Regions from separate parts of the Homo sapiens genome. Here region 1 is linked to region 2. The links come from fine-mapping of genetic effects on gene expression. Tissue or cell type: lung. Region 2 holds a variant in brackets; the other region holds the start of a gene. All regions are shown on one strand. Distances are from middle to middle.

Evidence for each region. PIP is the estimated chance that this variant, and not a neighbour inherited with it, causes the effect.
Region 1: it holds the start of SLC25A24, and the variant in region 2 is the best candidate, but not a certain one, in a credible set for the expression of SLC25A24 in lung (TOPMed, PIP 0.65).

The regions. Positions count from the first base shown.
Region 1 is chr1:108,195,100-108,205,530 of GRCh38, reverse strand. SLC25A24 (solute carrier family 25 member 24) reads left to right here and starts at 5,188. Exons shown (of 10, transcript NM_013386.5): 1 at 5,188-5,575. The coding sequence starts at 5,393. RefSeq lists an enhancer at 4,970-5,264 and a silencer at 5,065-5,404.
Region 2 is chr1:108,125,746-108,136,176 of GRCh38, reverse strand. It overlaps SLC25A24 (solute carrier family 25 member 24), which reads left to right. Exons shown (of 10, transcript NM_013386.5): 10 at 1-2,134. Among named protein-coding and RNA genes, the nearest start is that of LINC02785, 66 kb to the right of the region's middle. RefSeq lists a silencer at 10,308-10,431. The variant G/A (reference allele first, on the strand shown) is at 2,379.

The DNA.
Region 1 (10,431 bases), 69 kb before region 2:
GAATGGGCAAAAGCTGAAAGCATTCCCTTTGACAACTGGCACAAGACAAGGATGCCCTTTCTCACCACTCCTATTCAACATAGTATTGGAAGTTCTGGCCAGGGCAATCAGGCAAAAGAAAGAAATAAAGGATATTCAAATAGGAAGAGGGGAAGTCAAATTATCTCTGTTTGCAGATGACATGATTGTATATTTAGAAAACCCCATTGTCTCAGCCCAAAAACTCCTTAAGCTGATAAGCAACTTCAAGCAAAGTCTCAGGGTACAAAATCAATGTGCAAAAATCACTAGCATTTCTATACACCAATAAGAAACAGAGAGACAAATCATGAGTGAACTCCCATTCACAACTGCTACCAACAGAATAAAAAACCTAGGAATACAACTTACAAGGGATGTGAAAGATATCTTCAAGGAGAATTACACCAATGCCAAGGAAATAAGAGACAACACAAACAAATGGAAAAACATTCCATGCTCATGGATAGGAAGAATCAATATCATGAAAATGGCCATACTGCCCAAAGTAATTTATAGATTCAATGCTAATCCCATCAAGCTACCATTGACTTTCTTCACAGAATTAGAAAAAACTATTTTAAATTTGATATGGAACCAAAAAAGAGCCCGTATAGCCAAGAAAATCTTAAGTAAAAAGAGAAAAGCTGGAGGCATCACTTTACCTGACTTTTAACTACACTACAAGGCTACAGTAACCAAAACAGCATGGCACTGGTACCAAAACAGAGATATAGACCAATGGAACAGAACAGAGTCCACAGAAATAATGCCACACATCTACAACCATCTGAGCTTTGACAAGCCTGATAAAAACAAGCAATGGGGAAAGGATTCCCCATTTAATAGATGGTGTTGGGAAAACTGGCTAGCCATATGCAGAAAACTGAAACAGGACCCCTTCCTTACACCTTATACAAAAATTAATTCAAGATGGATTAAAGACTTAAACATAAGACCTAAAACCATAAAAACCCTAGAAGAAAACCTAGGCAATACCATTCAGGACATAGGCATGGGCAAAGGCTTCATGACTAAAACACCAAAAGCAATTGTGACACAAGCCAAAATTGACAAATGGGATCTAATTAAACTAAAGAGCTTCTGCACAGAAAAAGAAACTATCATCAGAGTGACCAGGCAACATACAGAATGGGAGAAAATTTTTACAATCTATCCATCTGACAAAGGGCTAATATCCAGAATCTACAAGGAACTTAAACAAATCTACAAGAAAAAAACAAACAACCCCATCAAAAACTGGGCAAAGGATATGAATAGATACTTCTCAAAAGAAGACATTTATGCAACCAAGAAACATACGAAGAAAATCTCATCATCACTGTTCATTAGAGAAATGCAAATCAAAACCACAATGAGATACCATCTCACACCACTCAGATTGGTGAACATTAAAAAGTCAGGAAACAACAGATGCTGGAGAGGATGTGGAGAAATAGGAACGCTTTTACACTGGTGGTGGGAATGTAAATTAGTTCAACCGTTGTGGAAGACAGTGTGGTGATTCCTCAAGGATCTAGAACCAGAAATACCATTTGACCCAGCAATCCCATTACTGGGTGTATATATCCAAAGGATTATAAATCATTCACATGCACGTTTATTGCACCACTATTCACAACAGCAAAGACTTGGACCCAACCCAAATGCCCATCAGTGATAGAATGGATAAAGAAAATGTGGCACATATATACCATGGAATAGTATGCAGCCATAAAAAAGGATGAGTTCATGTCCTTTGTAGTGACATGGATGATGCTGAAAGCCATCATTCTCAGCAAACTAACACAGGAACAGAAAACCAAACACCGCATGTTCTCAGTCATAAGTGGGAGTTGAACAATGAGAACACATGGACACAGGGAGGAGAACATCACATGCCGGGGCCTGTTGGGGGTGGGGAGGGGAGGGAGTGGGGAGGGGAGGGATAGCATTAGGAGACATACCTAATGTAGGTGATGGGTTGATGGGTGCAGCAAACCACCATGGCACATTTATACCTATGTAACAAACCTGCACATTCTGCACATGTATCCCAGAACTTAAAGTACAATGAAAAAAAATTATCCTTCCAGTAATGGTTATGGCTTTACACTGAACCAATCAAATTCTCTTACAGAGCCTAAGCTGTGATTACTCAAATTTGAGGGAGCAATGACCAGGATCTTTTTTTCCTTTCTGAATATTCTTGAAGGATTTTGAAATAGAATTGTTCCTTGTGGAGAGGCAGATTCTTTGGTCTTATTAGCACTACACAATAAGTAAGTGATTCAGTGGATAGAAAGAAGAAATGTGTTTATCAACTAAAACTAGCCAAATCCAGAATGATTATGAAAAGATTCCAAAGTAGGTGCTGAAAGAGGTCTTCAAGGACTGAAACTGGTCAAGTCTGAAGGTTATTCCAGTGGAAAATGGTAGTACATTAGAAGGCCAGAAGTTGGGGACAATAGAAGTAGCTAAATTGGGCTGAACCCTAGACTTCTGTTCTGACCAAGGAAATGAATTAAGGAAGTGTGAATTCTGGGTTTCTACTACTGCCCTCTAGGAACCACTGGTCTTTGGGAATTGCCAGTAGAATTAAGCAGGGGTGCCTTCTTTCGTCCAGATGTGTAAATGTCCATGTAAAGGTTTCTTCTCTTATGCAGGAAGTTGCTAGTGTTAATTACACCTTTTATCTTCATGGTGTTATCTCGATTCCTTGCAGACATAGTGTCGTAAAATACAGTAAAAATGCAATACTAGAAAATTGAAATTAAAAAGACAAGCTCTGAGTTTTATTATTAGATATAACAAAATTACTTTATCAAATTGCTATAAAGTTTCTAAATCCTTCCTCTCAATGTCTGACTCATTGCAGACAGGTAACAGGTTGCACTTCGAGTGGTTTGCTTCATACTAGCTGTGCTTTTCAAACTTTATGAAATGCTCATCCAGGGTTCTTGTATAAGTGCAATTCTTACTTAGTGGGCTTGGGCAGGCCTGAGATTATTTCTGACAAGCTCCCAAGTGACACTGATGCTGCTGGTCTGTGGCCCACACTTCATAAACGCTTTGATTTTCACAGTAACACTGATGTGACACCAATGCTGCTGGTGTGTGGCCCATACTTCATAACTATTCATAAACTGTTTTGATGTTCACACTGATCTTTTGAGAATTTTTATTCCATTTTACTCATGCTTAAGTCAGATTTATTGATATCCCAGAGTAAATTAACCCATGTTAGTGTGCAGTTCTGCTGGCACACACATGCAGTTGTGTAACCACTACCACCAAAAGCAAGATGTAAAATAGCTCCATCACCCCCACAAGCCTTCTGATGCTCTTTTGTCATCAATTCCCTTCCCGCTAGTCACAACTGGTAACTACTGATTTGTTTTCTGTCCCTATAGTTTTGCCTTTTCCAGAATGTCATTGTTGACAGGTATCAGTAATTCATTCCTTTTTATTGCTAATTACTATCTCACTGTATGAATGCAACACAGGTTGTTTACCAGTTCACCCGTTAAAGAACATTTTGTTTCTGCGCTTGACAGTTATGAATAGAACTGCTATAAACCCTCAAGTAAAAGTTTTGGTGTGAAGATAATTTTCTCAGCAAAAACGCTGACAGGTAATTTTTCTAAGTATTACTTTTTTAAAAAAGTAAAATAGCCTGTAGCCCCAGCTACTCAGGAGGCTGAGGCAGGAGAATAGCTTGAACCCAGGAGGCGGAGGTTGCAGTGAGTTGAGATTGTGCCACTGCATTCCAGCCTGGGCGACAGAGCTAGACTGTCTCAAAGAAAAAAAAAAAAAAAAAAGAAATAAATAAAAAGTAAAATGAAAGCATGTAAGTGTAAGATGACTAGTTCAAGCAACCTCTCTTCAAGTACAGAGTATTCAGAGTAGAGATTAAAAGAGGTTTTCAAGGACAGAGAAAATTTGAAGTTTGAAGGCAGTTCCAAAGGAAGGCAATGATTCTTAATAAGACTGGAAGTTGGAAGTAATATAAAAAGATAAATCAGTTTCAAGATGATTTTACTAAGCAGGCAGCCCTTAATTTACAAATTCTAGATTCATACATATCTTAAACATACAAAATGATATGAGGAGAGGTAAGTTCAGGGTCTGAGTTCCTGGCTGTTGTTGGAACTGATTTCTGTGTAGTGATTCAGAAGATGTGAGACACCCTAATTTACAAGTACAGAGGTATCTTCTTTTCTGCAAACAGCAGTACAACAATAGTTCCTCTTACGCAGCTGTGAATGAACAGGATTATTACAATTAATGATATCTCATTTGATTGGCGCCTTAGAGAATTAAGACCTTTCACACCTAATATACAACTTTGTTGTGAAGGCAGATATTTATATTCTCATTTTACTGATGAGAGACTACCCGGAGACGCTATGTCACACCTGAAGGATTAGGTACTTTCTCTGTTAAGTCCAATGTTCCTTCCGTTATTCCATGCTAGGCAGTAATAAGTTCTGTCTTGCCTGAGTAATAAGCTCCAAACCTCGGAACTGCACCCATCTTGAGAAGGAGGAGGGCGCTGTGGTTTTTTCTGATAAGTGCAGCTGGCAGACACTCTATACGCTTAATCACGGGCAAATCCTAGCTAAGCTGCCTACCAAACTAGTCCTTCTTTTCCCCGTTGCCCACGCAGATGGCTGTTGATCTTTTCTGCAACAAATCCAGGAGTTTCTCCTTTTTGTTTTATAATTGCTCCAATAGATGCTTTAGGATTTAACTCTCTGCTTTTTAAAGCAGAATCGCCATCCCAGGTGTGCAACCACGAAAAAATTAGACATCCGTGAGAGACAATGCCCTCCATGGCCCAGTTTCCAGGCAGAGAGAAGCAGCTCTGGGCTGACCGCCAAGGCTCCGGCCCGAGAGGGTCTTTAAGTGGAGTAACCAGTCTTCAAGACCCCGCTCCCAAGCCACCGACGCGCTGACGCTGCAGCCCTGGACCTGCTGGGGGCCTCTTCCTCGGACCCGCATGCTGACAGCGGGACTGGCAACTGGGCAGAGGTCGACCCCGGGTCCGCACAGCACCTCCCGAGACCCAGCTCCCAGCTCCCTCACTTCCGGCTCTCTGGAGGCGGGCCCGGCCAGTGCCGCCGAGGCCAGCGCGGCGAGCTCCTCCCCAGCAGCGGCGGGACGGCCACACCCTGCGCTCCGCGCGGGCTCGGGTGGGGTCTCCGCTCCTGCGCCCTGCGCCCTGCGCGCCGCAGCCGCAACCCCGACGGCGCCCCAAACGCTGTTGCGCCGCGCGCCCCGCCCAGCCCGGCCTCGCGCTGGTCCCGGTCTCGCCCCGCAGCCCTCGATCTCCCGTGACTTCCTCGGCCAGGCCGCCTGCGCCTCTGGGACCATGTTGCGCTGGCTGCGGGACTTCGTGCTGCCCACCGCGGCCTGCCAGGACGCGGAGCAGCCGACGCGCTACGAGACCCTCTTCCAGGCACTGGACCGCAATGGGGACGGAGTGGTGGACATCGGCGAGCTGCAGGAGGGGCTCAGGAACCTGGGCATCCCTCTGGGCCAGGACGCCGAGGAGGTGGGTCGCCGCCGGGGCGCCGCCTGAGCGTAGGGAGGGCTGCGGGCGCTGGGGACACTGCGAGGACCGAGGAGGGCGGCGGCTTGAGGCGTTGCCAGGAGAGGAAGGAGGAACTGTGGCGCCCAGCGCTCCGGTGGCTTCAGAAACTCGGGCGTGGGGCCGCGACCGGCGACCCCGGTAACAGAAGTGGGTCATAATACGAAAGTCTACTGGTATTTGTCCAGATAAAATGAGTGTTGTGGACACTCTGGCCCACGGGCACTGTTAAATTTTTAAGACACTTTTGTCCTGAATCCATCCCAGGTTCTTTGTTTTCTGTTTTAATACCTTGCAGACATGTAATCCGTTTTAGCTGTCAGACTTCAGTGGGTCCCAAGTTTTGTATAAAGGCGCACACATTCGATCTCTTTCGAAGCTGCTTTGTTACAGCAGCTATGTGTATTGTCTACTGTTTGAAAACTGTTTGAAAACCAATCGCGTGTTTCCCCCACTTCCTGTTGAGAAGGAATGGCGGCATTCCATTGTTTAAGACATTCCTAGGTTAATGCCCTAGGTACATAAATTGATCTGAAGGGTTGACTTGACCTGCGACTGAGCAATTTCATTTTCTCTGAGTCATCTTAACTGTGCCCCTGAACTTCTGCCCCTTTAGTAGGGTGGAGATATGTGGAACTTCTCCAACCCTGTTGAAGCGTTCCCTGACACTGGCATTCTCTTATCCAAAGAGGGAAAGTGATTAGGTTACTATGAGGGCCAACAACTGTTATATAGTTATATTTCACTTCTCTTTTAATGTCTTTGGTAGTTATAGGCCTCTTCAGTTTACTGTTTCTTCTAGAGTCAGATTTAGTAAGTTACAATTTTTTTTGAAACTGCCTGTTCTGTCCAAGGTTCATAATACTCACCGATGATTTTATAACACTTCTGACTGAATCTGTAGGTAGGTTCTCTATTTCATTCCTCATATCTATCCTTTTCTCCCCTTCAATCTTGCCAAAGTTTTGTGTATTTTATTCATACTTTGAAGGAACCAACTTTTGGTACTTTGTGCTGATTGTCCCAGAAATGGCCCAGTTGGAGTTCCCCACCATGTCCAATCATTGGCTGGAAGCAGCCCAGGAAAGGGACGACCTTGCTGCAGTGCATCAGCAGATGCCAGGGTTAGAGGCTAGAGAGTGGAAGTCAACTGTGTTCCTCACAGTAGGTGCCTTTGAAGGGAGATCTCAGTGGTACAACTCCATGGTCCCTACAATATACAAAAGCTCTTTGGAGTGCTCAATGATTTTTAAGATTGTAAAGGGATCCTGAGATCAAAAAGCTTGAGAATTGCTGCTGTATCACCATTTTTACGTAACTGCATCATATTCTGTTATATGTTTGTGTCATAGTATATGTTACCAATTCTTTTTAAATCACCTTTTACTTTATTGATAGTTTAAAAACGATTGTAAGTGAAATTGCAATGGATGTCCTTTGTATTCATTTTCTCATTCTGGTCCAGTTACTTTCGTAAGATAAATTTTGAGGAGTGGACATTGCTGAGTCTGAAGGTAACACACATTTTAAACTGGGATACGTATTGCCTTTCGGAAACCTTAGACCCATTTTCACTCTTTTGACTGACAGTGCTTGCTTCTCCACATCCTCGCTCATTCAGGGTATCAGTCTTTGTAAAGTCTCCTATTCTGCAGGTGAAATTCCTTTTCATTTCCTGTCTTAGTCCATTTAGTGTTGCTATAGTGGAATATCTGAGACAGGGTAATTTATAAAGAAAAGACATTTATTTAGCTCACAGTTCCGCAGGCTGGGAAGTTTAAGAAGCGTGGTGCTGGCATCTGCTGGACTCCTGGGGAGGGCTTTCCTGCTGTGTCACAACATGGTGGAAAGTCAAAGTGGAAGTGGACATGTGTGAAGAAGCAAAATCCGAGGGGTGTCCTGGCTTTATAGCAACCCAGCCTCGAGGGAACTGATCCATTACTGAGGGAACTAATTCAGTCTCATGAGAGAGAGAACTCACTCACTACTGCAAGAATGACACCAAGCCATTCATGAGGGATCTGCCTCCGTAACCCTGACACCTCCTGCTAGGTCCCTCCTCCCAACACGGCCACATCAGGGATCAGACTTCAACATGAGTTTTTGTGGGGACAAACAAAACGTAGCACTTGCTTTGCCTTTTGGTTCTATTCACATCCTCCACAGGATTGCATTATGCCTACCCATTTGGTGAGGGCAGTCTTCTTTAATTGGTTTACTGATTCAAATGCTACCCTCCTCCAGAGACATCCTCACAGACACACCCAGAAATCATGTTTTACCAGTTATCTGGGCATCCCTTAGTCCAGACGAGTTGATACATAAAATTAACCATCACACATGGGATAGAATTAGGATTACACAGTCAACCTTTATGGGAGAAAATTTCAGAGGCATGTCAGGGGTTTATGTAATGTCAAGGAGTGAGGACATTGGCTACTTGAGCATAGAAATGAGAACTGTGGGGTGACTCTTCGGTGGAAAGTTTCAAGGTAGTAGTTTGTATCTAAGCCAAATACTCAGCTTGAAGCAAAATCTCTATAAATTTTCATCTGATTTGATCTCATCTCCGTGTTTCCAAGCATTTGTAATGAATTGAGCATTTAGAAGAGAACAAATTTCTGTTTAAGTTTCTTTAGATTTTAGATGGAAAGAATGTAGAAATAAGAGTAGAATGTAGAAATAGGTATAAGGAATATAATAGCTAACCATTACTAAGTGTTCCAGAATTATCCAGGGAAGAGAAAAGAATTCAAGGCAAGTCCTGAGACAAAATTAAGAACCAATTGGAAGTGAAAGCGCTACATTTTTTTTTCTGGTATGACCTTTCTTTTCTGTATGTTCCAAATCTCCTCACTATGAAATTAGTGAAAAATTAAAGTTAAAAATTAGAGAAAATTCACATTAAGTTCTCCTAGGACTCAGTAGTATAAGGGTATAGACTGAGAGTAGAATGTAGTGTGAGAACAAGGAGATACAGTATTTAACCATTACTAATTCTCTTATACTTGTCTAGTAATCCTATTTCCTTTTAAAAGTCTTCAGTTATTTTCTCTTTACGCACCTCCTTCTCCCTCTTGTCTTCCTCCTTCTACCCCCATCTTCTTTCTTCCTGTGGAGCCTTCATGAATGGGATTAGTGCTTGTATAAAAGTGACCTGGAAGACCTTCCTTGCCCCTTCCACCATGTGAGGACACAGTGAGAAAACAGTGGTCCATGGAACCGGAAAGTGGGTCCTCACTAGACAGTAAATCTCCTAGCACTTCGATCTAGGACTTCCAGTGTCTGGAACTGCAAGAAATCAATGCTTATTTTTTAAGTAAGCCAATAGTATTTTTGTCATAGCAGCCCAGTTGGACTAGGACAATTATCAAGAGCAAGAAGGGAAGCAGCAAGCTACAAGAGAGTTCCGTCCTTGGTGTAAATTGACCGTGTAATCCTTGTCAAGTTTGAGCCTTACTGGAGCTTTACTTTCTTATTCTTAAAATGCAGATATCTTGCCTGCATCCTGGACAGAGCTTTTAACAAGGTCATATGTTGCAGAATATGAAAGTTCATGTTAAAAAACCCTTTAAAATGTGGTATCCCATTTACTAGCTGGTGAACTTCTTGAGGAACCTCTGTGCCCATGGGTATGAAGTGTATGCTGAATGATCACCCAATGTTAGAGGAGTGGGTGGACTGGTAACCTGATTTAAGGGCCATTCTAACTCTTACATTCTATGATTTTTTTAATTCTGTCTTTAAGTTTTTACATTTACAATCACAGAAAAAATAGTCACATAGAAGAATAGTAGCTTAGCAAATGTTTATTGCATTGAGTGGAATCAGGATTTCACTCCATTAAGTAATTCCTCTGTTAACAAAGAGGGTTCATTTCATTTTTATTTCATTAATATTGCTTTTTTTTTTTTTTTCTGGAGACAGAATCTTGCTCTATCACCAAGGCTGGAGTGCAGTGGTGCGATCTCGGCTCACTGCAGCCTCTGCTTCCTGGATTCAAGCGATTCTTGTGCCTCAGCCTCCCAAGCAGCTGAGATTACAGGCACATGCCACCACACCTGGTTAACTTTTGTATTTTCTAGTAGAGATGGGATTTTGCCATTTTGGTCAGGCTGGTCTTGAATTCCTGGCCTCTAGTGATCTGCCTGCCTCTGCCTCTGAAAGTGCTAAGATTACAGGCATGAGCTACCATGGCCAGCCCATTTCCTTAATATTTTAATTGTCAGACATGTTATGGTTTCTGGCACAATATTAAGAAGACATGATATGAAATCACAGGGTGAATTTTAGGGCATCACAACAGAAAGATTATGGTATAAGAAAAACAATGGAATTCCAACTACATTTCTGTCAAATGTTCTAAAATATATAAAATCTGTATCTTTTGTGTTCTCTCCTGATTTATATTCTAAATTTGATGTTATCCTTCTCTGCAGAAATAAAGTGTCTGAAAGAATGAAAAAAATGGAAGAATTCTTTAGTAAGGTATAAAATACCCTTTCTATCTTTGTAGCATTCTAAGCCTTTTGTCACCTTTCCAAACTCCCAACATGCCATATTCCCTGACTAGGCCACAGCCATGTACATTGATCCCTTTATTTTCTTCTCTCTGCCTGAGATTTCTCTCATTCCCCCTTCTCTGCCTGGTATATGATTGCCCATTGTTTAAGGCCCCAACTCACCTTTATAATCTTCCTAGCCCACTTTCTTTATCGGTATTCCAGAAAAAACAAAAGAAGCTTCCACAAGACAACATTCTGTAATACACTGCTTAACTTCTTTTGACCCTGCTGAGTTCAAAAATCTTATCTTTTTAA
Region 2 (10,431 bases):
CAGCAAAAGCATCCAAATAAGTATAGGGTTTATGTCCTTATTTTTCTTTCAGCTGAATACGAATGAACACAGTGGTGGAATTTCTGAAGGGAAGTGATGAAATTATATTTATTTCAGTGGGCACTTTTCCATTTTACCACTGTACCATTATTTGGTTCCTGGAGTTATACACTAATTTTCAGTATATTACTGTTAAATTACCAACACAAGGCAATTTATTTGAAAGATTCCGTTTATCCTGCCATTGCTTTGAAAAGCAGCAGGAAACGAAATCCTTTGACTTGTATCAGCTTCTGCAGAGCATCTTTGTTTTCCTTTGTCCTTTGTTTCCTACCTTTTGAATCAGATTCCGTTTTAGTCAGGAAGACTTCTTGGGACCATTCTTAGTAACCTGAAATTTCTTTTTTAATTGCATGAAGTGGATTGATCATGAGCAAATGATGTGCTTATTTCTCCCTCACTGTTGAATATCTTTGAACTTGCTGTTTTCAATATGGGCAGCACAAAGGTGAGAGATACATATTAATAGTAGTATGTATTACTCTTATACATTAGATACCTATATTTAAATGAAAGGCCCAATTTGTAAACATATACATTCATATTCTCTCTTGCCCCAAGTTTTAGGAACATGTTAGGATATAGGAGACTTAATTTATAATAATGAGAGCATTTTTTTATTTTACTAAAGCCATTTTTATAGTCAACTATCTTTTCTTATTTGTGTGATTAGAACTTAGAAAAATATTTACTAGTTGAAGTTATTATCAGTTTTTAATTTAGTTCTTAAACTCATTTCACTTCTAATAATTTCTGTTATAAATTTCCAGCATTTTAATGAAAATCTAATGATGTAATAGGCATTTTCTTTATTTGAACCTACCTCTTTTATTTTCTGAACCAAAGAGAAAGATGGACTGGTGTTTGTGAAACATTTTTAAAAATGTAGTTTCATTTATATTAGTTATGTTTGATAAATGTCTCAGTATTTTTATAATATGATAAGCCTGGGATTCTACTTTTAGGGTTATTTGTACTTTTGAGTAATATATAAAGTGACAATATTAAGGTACATGATCAGCTCTTTCTATTTTTACTCGTAAAAATTATGGAAATGAATAATTTTGCTAACAACTTTGAAATTTCAAACTTCTGGAAAATATGAAAATATTCATTGTTCATTATGAATTTAAATTGTAAGGTATGAATGTGATTTGTCTGTACATCTTGTATCTTTTCCAAAAAATGATTCTGTATCTTTTGGAAAAAAGCCGAGAGTTGAAGATAGTATATTTCTGGTAGTACTGAATATTTACTTACAGTTTCTATCAAAAATATATATTTGTTTCTAAAATTACTTGTTTTCCAGTTTTTATTTTTTTTAGAGAAAATTCTTAAGTCTCAGTTTCCTAATTGAAAAAAAAAAATTATAAATAAAGCAAAAATTGTATCCTACAGCTTAGCTAGCTTAGATGTTTGGCACCAGTTTGAATCATGCTTTTTACAGCTGGCTCCATGTAGTCTTTCCAAACATTTTGGCCTTTCCTGAGCAGCCCTTGTAGATATTGTCTGTATGATGCATTTTGACACAAGGTGATATTTTTTGTGATATCAAAATTCCACATTTACCCATTAGAGTTACAGCCCTGGGGTTCACAGTACCAAGGGGGACCCAGAGCCTCAGGATTGGCCAGGCTCATTTTGCCGTGGAGTATCAGTTTGTCTTGAAATTGTGGGAAAAAATTCTAAGTTGAATTCACTGGTAAGTAATTTTTTAAAATTTCATAATGCAGATTACATCCAAAATTTGATTTAAAAATTAAAACATAAGACTGCAGAGAAATTCTGCATTTCAACTCCAATACTATCCAGACTTCAGAAATAACTTATCAGTTATTTCTGTAAGCTTCTTGCTTACCTGGATACCTGACAGGTGAGATGGCTGTAGCAGACACTGGCAGTTCCCTGCCCACACACCTGTCCCTGTCCACAGCTGCACAAGGCAGCTCTGTGTGCAATTGCCAGCATCTGCTCCTCTGTTCTCAGGGAATCTTTGTTAGAAAAATGCTGCCATATTTGTTTCTCACCTATTAGTCTTGTCTCCCAGTCAAGAGAATAAATTTATGCAAGCAGAGATTGTACTTTACAGTATTTTGTCTTTGAGCTTGGCATTATGTTGCATTTGTAAAAATGTGGCATGGCTTCCTCATCCCCCAATAGGAACTTTGCCAGCCCTTTTGTTCTCATGGAACTTCCTTTTTTGAAAAGAGCACCAAAGGAGTAAAAATACTGTGGAGGGAGCAACCCTCCTTTGCCATATGCTCTCATTGGGAGACATGTGGAGCAGTCTGAAGTCATTTAGGCCACTCTCTGGGAGA[G/A]CACATCCTATGATGTTCTCCCAGCCTAGCCCCTTCCACTGTGCTCAAGTCCAAGCTGACCAGCTTTCTGACCACAGTGTAAACAAAGATGATTGTCAGTGGGCCCCAGAATCCTATACCCAGACACTAAGCCACAGCCACTAACCCCAGGCCACTTCAGCATTTATTCCACCAGCATTCACTCACTCATTTGTTCTTGCAGTGTGCATTTAGTAGGCACCTGTTATGGCTTGGCTTTATCCCCATCCAAATCCCATCTTGAATTGTAACTCCCACAATTCCCACATGTCATGGAAGGAACTGGTGGGAGGTGAATGAATTATGGGGGTGGGTCTTTCCTGCACTCTTCTCATGATAGTGAATGAGTCTCATGAGATCTGATGGTTTTAAAAACAGGAGTTTCCCTGCACAAACTCTCTCTCTCTTTGCCTGCTGCCATCCATGTAAGATGTGACTTGCTCCTCCTTGCCTTCTGCCATGATTATGAGGCTTCTTTTGTAAATTGTGCAGTCTTGGATATGTCTTTATCAGCAATGTGAAAATGGACTAATACAGTAAATTGGTACCCGTAAAGTGGGGCGTTGCTGAAAAGATACCTGAAAATGTGGAAGTGACTTTGGAACTGGGTAACAGGCAGAGATTGGAACAGATTGGAGGGCTCAGAAGAAGGCAAGAAAACGTGAGAAAGTTCTGAACTTCCTAGAGAGTTGTTGAATGGCTTAGCCCAAAATGCTGATAGCAATGTGGACAATAAAATCCAGGCTGAGGTGATTTAGGATGGAGATGAGGACCTTGTTAGGAATGGAGCAAAGTTGACTCTTGTTATGTTTTAGCAAAGAGACTGGGGGCGTTTTGCCCCTGCCCTAGAGATTTGTGGATCTTTGAACTTGAGAGAGATAATTTAGGGTATCTGGCAAAAGAAATTTCTAAGCAGCAAAGCCTTCAAGAGGTGACTTGGGTACTGTTAAAGGCATTCAGTTTTATAAGGGAAGCACAGCATAAAAGTTTGGAAAATTTGCAGCCTGACTATGCAACAGAAAGGAAAAATCCATTTTCTGGGGAGAAATTCAACCTGGCTGTAGAAATTTGCTTAAGTAGCAAGGAGCTGTTAATGTTAATCCCCAAGACCGTGGAGAAAATGTCTCCAGGCCATGTCAGAGACTTTATGGCAGCCCCTCCCATCACAGGCCCAGAGGCCCAGGAGGAAAAAGTGGTTTTGTGGGCCAGGCCCAGGGTCCCCATGCTGTGTGCAGCCTAGGGACTTGGTGCCCTGTGTCCCAGCCGTGGCTGAAAAGAGTCAATGTACAGCTCAGGCTGTGGCTTCAGAGGGTGGAATCCCAAGCCTTGGCAGCTTCCATGTGGTGTTGAGCCTGTGGGTGTAAAGAGGTCAAGCACTGAGGTTTGGGAACCTTCACCTAGATTTCAGAAGATGTATGGAAACGCCTGGATGCCCAGGCAACAGTTTGCTGCAGGGGCTGGGCCCTCATGGAGAACCTCTGCTAGGGCAGTGCAGAAGGGAAACGTGGGGTTGGAGCCCCTATACAGTGTCCCTACTAGGACACTGCGCAGTGGAGCTGTGAGAAGAGGGCCACCATCCTCCAGACCCCAGAATGGTAGATCCACAGACGGCTTGTACTGTGTGCCTGGAAAAGCTGCAGACACTCAACACGAGCCCATGAAAGCAGCCGGAAGAAAAGCTGTACCCTGCAAAGCCACAGGGGCAGAGCTGCCCAAGATCAAGGGAACCCACCTCTTGCATCAGCATGACCTGGATGTGAGACCTGGAGTCAAAGGAAATCATTTTGGAACTGTAAAATTTGACTGCCCTGCTGGATTTCGGACTTGCATGGGCCCTGTAACCCCTTTGTTTTGGCCAATTTCTCCCACTGGGAATGGCTGTATTTACCCAATAACTGTATCCCCACTGTATCTAGGAAGTAACTGCTTGCTTTTGATTTTACAGGCTCATAGGTGGAAGGGACTTCCTTTGTCTCAGATGAGACTTTGGACTGTGGACTTTTGGGGTTAATGATGAAATGAGTTAAGACTTTGGGGAACTGGTGGAGGCATGATTGGTTTTGAAATGTGAGGACATGAGATTTGGAGGGCCAGGGGTGGAATGATATGGTTTGGCTGTGTCCCCACCAAAATCTCAACTGGAATTATATCTCCCAGAATTCCCACATGTTGTGGGAGGTACCCAGGGGGAGATAATTGAATCATGGAGGCAGGTCTTTCCCATGCTTTTCTTGTGATAGTGAATAAGTCTCACAAGATCTGATGGGTTTATCAGGGGTTTCCACTTTTGATTCTTCCTCATTTTATCTTGCCGCTGCCATGTAAGAAGTGCCTTTTGCCTCCCTCCATGATTTTGAGGCCTCCCCTGCCATGTGGAACTGTAAGTCCATTGAAACCTCTTTTTCTTCCCAGTCTCAGGTATGTCTTTATCAGCAGTGTGAAAATGGACTAATACAGCAGCCAATGTGGGCTGAGGTCACAACATTGAACAAAAGACTCAGTACTTCTTGTCTAGTGGGGAGAGACAGATGATAAACTATTAAGTAAAACATGTAGTGTGTCAGATGGTGCTAAGTGCAGAAGGGAGAGCTGGGGCTGTGGCCAGGGCTGCAGTTGTACAGAGATTGATAGAGAAGGCCTTATTGAGGAGGTGCTGTTTGAAGGTGGTGCAGGAATGCTCTATACTGAGTCTGGAAAGAGCATCCAGGCAGCAGAGGGAAGCAGATGCAGTGGCCACAGGAGGGAGGAACCTGCAGGAGGCCCGTGTGGCTGCAGGAGAGGAAGCCCAGGGAGGCAGCAATCCAGGAAGCAGAGGGGACTCTGAGGGAGCCACATCATCATTCATTTCTCCATTTCTTGCTTTCTAGTTCTGCAATAGCAGCAGTTTCTTGGGGGTATTCCCTAAATAAGATTCAAATGTCTCTCCTCGGGGGGTGGGGGACACTTGGGGTAGTATCACTGGAAATGATGGAAAATACCTCAGTTTCTGGGAACTGTTATGTCCATCACAGACAGAATAGCTTACTGCTACCTGGACACGTGGGCCCATTCTCCAGGTAGCATGTCTATTGGCTTCTCTGTGCCTCTCCTCCTCCAGGGAGAATTGTAATTTTTAAAAAGAGAATTAACTTAGAAACCTTAAAATCTTTCTAGATATTTTCTGAGAATTACAGAGGATTTTAATCTTAGCAAACTAACAAGGCTCCCACTGTCCTCACTTCCTTCTCTGATCACTTTGTATCTGCCCAGGGTTGGTTGGTTTGTTTATTTGTTTTTAATTTACACAAGTTTGACAATGTTGGAAACAATCCTTTTATTTGATTTTTTGTTTTGTGTTCATTGATAATGTCCTGTTTTAAATTCACTTCCACAAAGTCAAGATAACCATAACAAACAAGTGATTTGTATTTTGTTACTCCAGAAAGAGAGGCTGGTTTGTCCAGGGATTTTAAAGCTTTCTAAAGTACGCTTCGAACCTAAGCTTATTATAGACTCCCAGTTTTCCCTAGTCAGCATGAGTTTACACTCATCTGATTACACCGATTCTACCACACAATCTCAGCCACGGGCTCAGGATGAAGTGGCCTGAATCCCAGCACCTGTAATCAGTGCCTTCTGTAGCTATGTGTCACCCAGCCAGTCTTTGCTGTACTGCAGGGGGTCCCCACATCAATCTTACTGCAGCAAATGGGATGGTAAAAATGTGGTTTTTTCTTTTTTAATTTAAATCAACTTAAGTCCAGCTCCTTAACCACTCAGTGTTGTGCCAATGATCTAGGATGTTGGCCCCTTTGGACACTGGCCATGGTCTACACCACTCACAGCTGAGGCGCCCTTTGTTCTAGCCTGCATGGTCCCTTGGTTCCAGCAGTTGTGCCATGCTTGGGATGGGAGGAGTTGGGAAGACATGGAGTGTCTGTGTCTGGGGTCCGGCCTTTCCATTCTGAAATGGTGATGAGTAGAATGTGGATCTCCCTTAGCCTTGGGACCCACTAACCTTTGTCTTCTTCCAAACCTCCGACCCACCTCTTTTTCTCTTTGCTCTTAAAATTATCCCTCTCCTCTTCCCTCTGAGGCCCCTGTCATCCTCTCTGCAGGTAGCTTCAGTGTTTGCAAAAGACAGAAAAGACTTTGATTGAAAGTGACTTCTGATTTCTACTTTAAAAAATCACCAAGGGAAGGAAATGCTAAAGGCCTGACTCCTGCTCTGAAATGAGAAAAAAGGGAAAATATAGGGACATAAATACAAGTTAGTATTTTACTCAGTTATCTTGCTATAGCCTCTCAAATTGCCTCCTGTCTCCTGGTACTCTGTCTCAGGAGTAAGCCTTGTGCCTTACAGCAGTAGGCTCTGCACATAAAAGGAGATGGCTGTTTTGTTTGTTTTAACATAAACAGATTGTTATACCTATTGAATCTCCAAGTTCCCACAACTATATTGATATGTGGCAATGCAGTTTCACAACCAGACAGTTCAATAAACGGTGTCCAGGTTGAAGGGTCAACTATGTACTTAAAATTCAACCCTTTTCAATGGCCTGGGGAGGAGATGGGAAGGATGGGAGAGGGTACAATTACTTGGAATGCTGAAAAGAATGATAAGGTGAGACTCCCTCTCTGCAAGGAGTCTAGAGCTGTTTCTAAATCTGTTTTGGTTTTGGATGTGTTGGTGAATATGAGTGCAAGCTCTCAGAAGACATGGCTGATAAAGTTGCAAGTGTAGAATTAGAGGTGAAATTGATGAGTTGGGTGCTTGAGTTTCTAAGTAGAAGAATCTGGTGGAATTCTACCAGAAGATGAGGAACATGGTTTAAAGCTCATCCTTTAGTGATCTTTGTTTTTGTCCTGATTTTATTCCCTTCCTGCTTTACTCTTTGTAAAGATGTTCCCCCTTAAGATATAGGGAAATGTTCTATAAGGTAATAAAGCTATATTAAGGCGAACAAAAAGTAAATGAATGGAGACTTTTGCTGGAGTTTGAAAAGTTAGCTATTTTATATGTATGTTTTCTTTGTCTAGTAAAAATGTACGACTATTGTTTTATGGAATTCCAATCAGAGACTGTGGGAGACTTTCTTTACTTTGCTAAGCCTTAATAATTCACTTACTCTTTTTATAAGGCAGTGAGAAACATTCATTGGTCAAATGGTTTGTTCAACAATGTTCTTTCTATTTTATTCACATAGCATTAACTAATAATCTTTCTATTTTATTCATGGTACCATTGACATCATCAACACTTTATTGAGTGTAACTGGATTTATTATAATTAATCACAATAAACTGCACATGTTTAAATTATATAATTTCATAAGCTTTGACATATGTACATACCCATGAACAAAAGATGGTGAACATACCAGTTTCTGAGTACATCAAGAAACCACTGATTGCTTTCTTTCTTTTTTTTTTTTGAGACGGAATCTCGCCCTGTTGCCCAGGCTGGAGTGCAGTGGTGTGATCTCGGCTCACTGCAACCTCAGCCTCCTGGGTTCAAGTGATTCTTCTGTCTCAGCCTCCTGAGTAGCTGGGACTACAGGAGCGTGCCACCATGCCTGGCTAATTTTTGTATTTTTGGTAGAGACAGGGTTTCACCATATTGGCCAGGCTGCTCTCGAACTCCTGACCTCGTGATCTGTCCACCTCGGCCTCCCAAAGTGCTGGGATTACAGGCGTGAGCCACCGCACCCAGCCTGATTTCTTTCTTTCTATCACTGTAGATTCATTTGTATTTCATAGAATTTTATGTAAATGTCTAGCTTTTCACTCTGCAAAGTCAATCAGAGTTATCTGTGTTGTTGCATGTCTCAATAATTTATTCTTTGTTTTGCAGAGTAGTATTCCCTTGTAGGAACATTCCACAGTATGAGACAAGGCCCTGCAGAGAAACTCTACATAGAAAGGGTCTCCATGGGGCTGGGCACTGTGGCTCACACCTGTAATCCCAGCACTTTGGGAGGCTGAGGTGGGCGGATCACAAGGTCAGGAGATGGAGACCATCCTGGCCAACATGGTGAAACCCCATCTCTAATAAAAACACAAAAATTAGCTGGGTGTGGTGGCACATGCCTGGAATCCCAGCTACTTGGGAGGCTGAGGCACGAGAGTCGCTTGAACCCAGGAGGTGGAGGTTGCAGTGAGCTGAGATTGCGCCACTGCATGCCAGCCTGGGTGACAGAGTGAGACTCCACTTAAAAAAAATTAAAAAAAAAAAAATAATAATAATAAAAAAAGAAAGAGTCTCCATGGAACACTTGATCCCTAATTGGCAGAAGAGGTCAAGGAAAAACACTAATGTGAAACAAGGGCAAAAGGTGCAAGAAAATTAAAAGGCAGTTAATAACTTCAGGAAAAATTAAAAAGCTCTAATATAAACGAAATGTGGCTGGGTGTGGCGGCTCATGCCTATATAATCCCAGCACTTTGAGAAGCTGAAGTGGGCAGATCGCTTGAGGCTAGGAGTTTGAGACCAGCCTTGGTAACGTAGCAAAACCCCATCTGTACGAAAAATATAAAAATTAGCTGGGCATGGTGGCCTGTGCTTGTAGTCCCAGCTATTGAGGGGAGAGCAGCTAAGGTGGGAGGATTGCTTGAGCCTGGGAGGTCAGGCTGCAGTGAGCTGTGATTGTGCCACTGCACTCCAGCCTGGGCAACAGAGCGAGACCCTGTCTCAAAAAAAAAAAAAAAGAAATGTAATTATAGTGAACACTAGCTCGGCAGTGAAAAATACTGCAAAGTCACATCATCAATGTGCTTTCAAAATCAAACTGTAGGCCTAAATATAGCTATAGAAGAATGTAAACAAGGAAGCAAATGTAATCAGAAGCTGAGCAGTAGGAGAGAGGAGGTGGGGTGAAAAGGGAAGGATGAGGAAGGTGGGGGTGTGCAAGGCTCTTGCTTACCTGGGTACCCGACAGGTGAGATGGCTGTAGCAGACACTGGCAGTTCCCTGCCCACACACCTGGCCCTGACCACGGCTGCACAAGGCAGCTCTGTGTGCAATTGCCAGCATCTGCTTTGGTGTTGCTCTTGGTGCTGGAGCTTACTTGCTGCCCATGTGACAGGAGCAGCTCTAAACCAGTGGTCGTGAGCTCTGTTTCGCACTGGCTCCCATTTCTACACTGGGTCTGGTGCAGGTGCCTATGGTGGCAGCTGGTGTGATGATTTGCCCTTTACTGATGGCCTTCTCCTCATCTTACTTTCCCATCCTGTCCTTGAATCATCCATTTCAGGATCTGCCTCTGAAAGAACCCAAACTAAGGCAGTCAATCCACCACAGACAGACAAGGAAATAGAAGCAGAGCGTTTTATTTAGAGATTATGGAGGAAAATACGAAAAGAAGCAACTAACAGAACTGCAGGTCATTACCTCTAGGGACCAAGACTAGAGGTGGGAAGGGGCGGAAGAGGAGACCATGCTTTTAAATATATGCATGGCATGTGCTACTTTAATATAATTAAAAACAATCACTTAAAGCAAATTGGAACAGTGTAACAAATGAAATCAAATGAAATCAAAAGGAGAGAGCACAAATATATCTGAGTAACTTGGTCTGTCCCCCAGCCCCCTTAATGTTGTTACCTGAATATGTCAATTGTTGTCAAAAGACAAGCATAAACTGAAATCGATTATTGTATGGATCTGAACCGATGGAAAATATTCTCTGTACAGCAATTTTAAAAGTATAATGGTAATCACTGTGTTAGGGATTAAGTATACTTCCCACCCTGTGTTTTTGCCATTGTATAGGAAAAATCATGCAGAATACATTGATAATCACTGTAGAAATGAGATGAGATTTATTAACTAAAACACTTAGCACTTCACCTGGCACTACTTTATGAAGAAGCACTTTGTATAGGGCACTATGTGTAGTTTATATATATAAAGAAACATTTGTGTATTGGGTTTGAATGTTACTTGTTGTTGTTGAATATTCTTCTGCTAGTCCACCCTGTCCCTGATGGAAGCTATGCCCCCGGATCAGAAACGCTTGATGCTCAAGCGGTCCTGGGAAACCACTATTGCAAGTAA